2 separate regions of the Homo sapiens genome follow, and region 1 is linked to region 2. The links come from fine-mapping of genetic effects on gene expression. A gene starts in region 2. The other region holds a variant in brackets. All regions are shown on one strand. Distances are between the middles of the regions. Region 1 overlaps CEP41 (centrosomal protein 41). Region 2 holds the start of CEP41 (centrosomal protein 41).

Evidence for each region. PIP is the estimated chance that this variant, and not a neighbour inherited with it, causes the effect.
Region 1: its variant is fine-mapped to the expression of CEP41 in whole blood (TOPMed, PIP above 0.99).

The regions. Positions count from the first base shown.
Region 1 is chr7:130,395,488-130,398,397 of GRCh38, reverse strand. CEP41 (centrosomal protein 41) reads left to right here. Exons shown (of 11, transcript NM_018718.3): 11 at 1-2,910. Among named protein-coding and RNA genes, the nearest start is that of CPA1, 16 kb to the right of the region's middle. The variant G/T (reference allele first, on the strand shown) is at 1,366.
Region 2 is chr7:130,439,528-130,442,437 of GRCh38, reverse strand. CEP41 (centrosomal protein 41) reads left to right here and starts at 1,422. Exons shown (of 11, transcript NM_018718.3): 1 at 1,422-1,504. The coding sequence starts at 1,472. It overlaps LOC105375505 (a long non-coding RNA gene), which reads right to left and starts at 684. Exons shown (of 3, transcript XR_927973.3): 1 at 1-684. RefSeq lists an enhancer at 982-1,736.

The sequences.
Region 1 (2,910 bases), 44 kb after region 2:
TCCAGCCGCCTGCAGACCCCACCCCAGCAGGCTCACTCAGCAAGGAGCTCTCTGCCCAGCATATTGCAGGCCCTGTTTTGAGTATGGAAGCCAGTGCCTGTGTACTCACTGAAATTGAAGATGAGGAAAGTAGCTGTACACTCACTGAATGCTCCCCCTTACTAGATATTTCCTGGAGCCAGAAAGGTATGCATGTGGGTGTCTTCACACCGGGGAGGAGGGCCTCTCATGGGAAAGCCCTGGCCACCACACCGGCCTGTGCCCCTTGAAGCCCACCAAAGCGGCCCTCACTTGTGGTCAGTATATCAGTTATGACGCCCATTGCCCAGCTTCAGTCCATCCATGTTAGATGGACAGAAATTATGGCCAGTTGAAAATACCAGCTTTGGTTGGACAACTGTGGACACACAAGGTGAAGAGGACTCCGAAGTCCTTTGTCAGGGCTGACAACCTCGTAAGCCCTTGCTTAGAAATACAGTATTAGTCTAATTGAGTAATTAGTGCAATTTCCTGCTTACTTTTCATTCTCATGACTGAACTGTGATTAGGAAGTTGTGATTATAGATTCTGGTTTTGGCCGGAATTTTGAATCAGCATTAATTGAATTGCTAAATGACTGACATTCATTCCATTTAATTGGGGGAACAAAAGGCCTCAGGTAAGGATGAGGAACTCTGAAATCAGATGGAAAAGAGCGGTGTTAATTTTTATGGTCTGTGATCGTAGCTGTGATAAGGGACTGAGGAATAAATTGTGCTCTTTGTCATGGCAACCAGCTTCTGAAAAGCCCACTGAAAATTGCCTGTCCTGCTGGTAACTGCTACGGGGTAAGATTTGCCTTAACAGTACTATTTTCTCGCCACCAAAAAAAAAAAAAAAAAAAAAAAAAAATGCACCACAGTATTTCTAGCATGGGGGCTGTGTTTGTATGAGAAATAAACGTAATAAATATCTCATAGAGACATATGGAAAAATAACTTTCAGATTCAGCCCAGTTCTGTTTTAGAGTGTGTTTATTCTTCTCTACTTGATTTCCAAAGTGCAACATTTTCCGATGCTTTAGAAATCAAACAAACCAGGGACATTGTTCAGATGTCAAGCCATGCCCAATTTTCCACAAGATTCAAGAATCTTGTATAAAATTCAGCCAACGTACACATAGCTTTAATGAGGAGCCTGTCATGTTTCCCCATAAATTTATTGCCTGAGAACTTAGTTCAGCCTTTGCTAATGCCAAAATGCTCTGGCTTTGTATTTTCTTTACAGCATAGATAGAAAAATGCACATTTTTCCACACTCAGCTTTCCCCTAGCATGGACAAGATTTTCAGCCATTTTTGCCACATATACATTTTTAAGGAAAAAA[G/T]ATTTTTCTCTGTAAGAAAGTTCTGGTTATGCTGTTTTAAAGGTGACTTGTCAGGAGTTGAGACTTCCCTGCCGGATTCTATTTTGAAAGTAAATGGTCTTCCCTCCTTGTTCCGATTCTGCGTTCCCATCGTCAGACAACTTTGGAGTATTAGAAACCACTGTATATATGTGGAAAGCCAGGTCAGCCAGACCTGTTAGAATTGGTGTGCACTCACCTGAGAGATCTGGCAGGTTGGATATATTTATGTGTATTTCTCCACAGTGCTTGCTTTGCCCTGTTGGTAAGGATTTTAAATAACCATGCTCAAAAGAGCTGTTCTAATCTGCGTTTTGCATGTTAAGTGTTAATATCAAACATTCTTTACGTGCTCGAGGTATTGCTTTTAACATTCTACTTTGCCAGTTTCTTCATTAGATTAATTGACATGTATTATTTAAATGACCAGTGATGCTTTGTGCAATTATGAATGTTGAAGATTAAAGTACATAGTTACTAATTTGTCGTTTGCTATTAATATGCTGAAAACTGCCAACTTCTCTCTTCTTTTCTGTCGAGATGATTTGGGGGAGCCACAGGAGACTGGTGTGATTTTTGCTGCATCTCCTAGGAAAGCATTTTTTAAAAAAAATAAATGAATCAGGAAATCAGTCCAATTAGGGCAGGGGGCCTCAGCTCTCCAGTCAGAAAGCCTGGATTTCTTTTCCTGCTCAGGCTGGGACTGAAGCCACCTTCAACAACTGGATCATGGCTTCCTACCAGCGTCTCAGGGGTTGACTAGCTGCCCTTGTCTGGGGCTTGTGAACCCTGAGACAGAAGGTGCTTCATCGATGTACAACTACAGCACCCTGAACAGCAGTGATGGCCAAAGTTTAAATAATACCTTAAATGCTTTAAAGGGGTTTGTGTTTAAGGAAGGGAGAAAAGAAAAAAAGAAAGGAAGGGAGAAAGAAGCAAGGAAATGGGAAGAAGGGAGGGCAGAGAGAAGAAAAGAAGCAGAAAGCGAGAGAGAAAGGAGAAAGCTACATTACTTATTTGAAAACAAAAGGAACACCCTGGGCTGTAATAATGTCAGGCTCAATCTCTTGAAAAAGTATGGAATGATTTAAATGGCCTGCATTCATTTTATCTTTTATCTTTTTTTTTTTTTTTAACCTTTAGTGGTTAGCCAGGACCAGCACGATCATATTGGGCTTGGTATAAATCCGAATGAAAAGAGACCAAATAACATTCATTAGTTGCTCAGGGATTTTTCCTGTGGTGCTATTTAAATTATACAAAAATTCTTAAGACTTTAGGCTACTCGACCAAGAAAACAGAACAAAACAAAAAATCGTGTTTTCTCTAATTCCCTTGTGGAATGTAAGTGAAATCAGAGTCCTAGGCTAGGAAGAAATACGTAGGTAATTTTTCTTGTGTTGGTTTTGGTTTCTGTCATGTTGTTTATTGGCTATAGATTCTGTCTTTTATGTTATCTGACTTTTTTAGAGCGAATAATTAGTTTCTGTCCACCTGGATTTAAATCCATGACCACCTTCTTGCTCT
Region 2 (2,910 bases):
TTCTATCCATAATCTCTATGGTTACCCACAAGGTGCACCAGGTAAGCATACATTCTAAATACTAATGAATCTAGAAGTTTCTGCTTGCTATGCAAAAGCTTCTAGATTAACATTCTTCCCTCTGCCTCCTTCCAATTTTTTGCAGCCTTCAAACCCTTCCTTAGCAGAGGAGTGAGAGACTGAGAATTTTAGAGGGGTTAAAGAACTGGCAAAGATTATGGAAATTAAGACAAAACTTAATAAACATGAAAGAGTGACATGAAAAGTCCAAGAAGCAGCTGTGGCCAGAATTCAAAATTCTGGTCAAGCAGCACTGACTGGCAACATGATCCAAGGTGTAGCCCTAAGGTTGGGTTGCTGAAGTGCCTAAGAGAACAAGGGCATGTGAGGCCATGTTGTTGAATGGGTCATCTCACAGACCCTGAAGTAGCTCAAATGTGTGCTATTATTCACTAACAGACAACTGGCGAGTATGAACTGCTCAGAGTAACCTTTCTCCATTCCTGGAAAAACAACTTAGAGCAAAGGACAAAGGGTTACTGTGTTGTTCCTTTCATGTAAAAGGAAATAATAATTTTGATGGATTTGGTGGGACATTTAGGAGCCAAGTCAAACTGTGTGTGTAATTGTTTTGTAAAGGTGCTAGGACTTCATTTTCAGATCCGGAATGGGAACAGGTGGTGGCTGGTGGCAGGAGTCACAATGGTTTCCATGACGACGGGATTGGGTCCTAGTCATCCTCCCATTCTCCACAAGACCTACTGCAGCTTTTCTCATAAGGTGCTTATTAAGTATTTGTTAAATGAACGATGAACCACAGAATAGCGCGTGTGCTTTGCAATTAAGGATGTCGCTCTATAGCTAGCCTAAAAGCTTTTAAAGCACCGATAATTACTGTATTTACCCATGTATTTTGCATAATTCGCATATTAACTTAACCAGAAAATAATAAACCATACTCTCCCATTTCTGCTGAACAACCCTGGCCCATATAATATTCCCTGTTGTGGAATCAGTAGCCCAGATGTTTGGTTGAAACGGCCATAAAACGGAGCTGGGGGATGGGGAGTCTTGTGTTGTATTTATGGTTCCACATTAGCTAAAACTCGTGTTTTGTCCCGGCTCTCAAGCCACTGCCCCCGCCCCCGGCTTTGCGCAGGCGCCAGCCTTCCCCTCCCCCCGCGCCTCTCTTCCCGCCCTAAGGCTGGAGCCGGCGAGCCCCAGCCCAGAGAACAAAAGGCCTCGCTAGCCGGCGTCCCGCGTTGCCCTTGGCAACCATTGAGCGGCGTCTTGCCCTTCTGCGACCCTGAGATGAGAGAGTAAACGGGGCCCCCATTGGCCGGCCGGGGAAGACGGGCCAATCGGAGAAGAGGGTATAGGGAGGCGGCTGAACAAGGTTGTGGGGGTAGGAAGCTAGGGTTAGAGGCAACCCGTGAGGCTAGAACCCCGAACGTGGTCGGTTGGAGAAAATATGTCCCTCCGGAGGCACATTGGGAACCCTGAGGTGAGGGCCAGGTCTCGGCCGGAGAGCCGGAGGGGGCGGGCGCACCGGAAAAGGCTCATGTGGGCAGGGAAGAGCAGCCAGCGACTTCCGCCGCCCGGAAGGCGGGAAGGGGCCGGCGTGAGGAGGGGTCGGGATGCAGGGGCGGGGCGGGCCGGGCTTGGGGGCCGCGGGGCAGCGTTCAGGACCCCGTTTTGAGGAGCGATCTCTCCCCGCGTACGCACGCCAGTACTTGTGACTGCGAGGAGCGAAGTACCCAAAGACACAGCCCTTGCCCTCAAATGGCTTACAGTCTCGGAGTGACAGTTACAAAACAGAAAAGACAAAGGAAGCGCTGCACACTAATGGCACGTGTTGAAAGCCAGCCAGCATCTCTGATTGTGGGGATACAGGAAGAGCAGGAGTAAGCTGACCAAACCTTTGGAAAACGGGCAAAATAGGACATTAGGCTTACCCCTCTCTCCATAGGACCCTTCAGTTTCTTCATCTGTTTCACCGCTAGTCCCCTGCTGCATTTGTGGCAGTTTCAACAAACGTTATTGGAAACTTCCACGGTGCAGTAGGTGCTAGACGTACAAAGAAGACAAGGCCTCTGCCCTTTAATAAATTGCGTATAGTGGACCAGGCGCGGTGGCTCAGCCTGTAATCCCAGCACTTTGGGAGGCCGAGGCGGGCGGATCACGAAGTCAGAAGTTTGAGACCAGCCTGGCCAACATGGCGAAACCCCGTCTCTACTAAAAATACAAAAATTAGCCGGGCGTGGTGGTGAGGCGCCTGTAATCCCAGCTACTCGGTAGGCTGAGGCAGGAGAATCGCTTGAACCCAGGAGATGGAGGTTCCAGTGAGCCGAGATCGTGCCATTGCACTCCAGCCTGGGTGATAAGAGCGACTCTGTCTCAAAAAAATAAAAATAAACAATAAATAAATTGCGTCTAGTGAAGGAGCCTGTGAACAGAATTTGAGTACAGTGTGGTCGGGGAGCAAGATGTTACGAGAAAATAGGTAGTACTCAACTGAGGGAGTGAGAGAAGGGTTGTGGAGATGGAAGGGGTGGCAAGGCCATTCATTAGCCAGGTGAAGCATCATCCCGGGTAGAACAGCCCAAGTGAAGGTAAGGAGTGTGTGAACTCAGAACAGGCCCCTGTAGGAGTCCAGGCTTTCTCTGCCTTGCTGAGGTTCTTAGCCTTTATCCCAAATAGGAGTTGTAACTGTTTCATCTCTTGGTGGCTGCCTGGTACTAGGCTGAGAAAGCTGTAAGGCTGAGTCTAAGCCCTGCAAGAGAGCCATGGTCAATTGGTAATGTCTAAATGCTGCATGATCTCACTTATACGTGGCATCTTAAAAAGTCCAGCTCATAGAAGTAGAGAATAAAATGGTGGTTACCAGAGCCTGGAGGGTGGGGGGAAGGA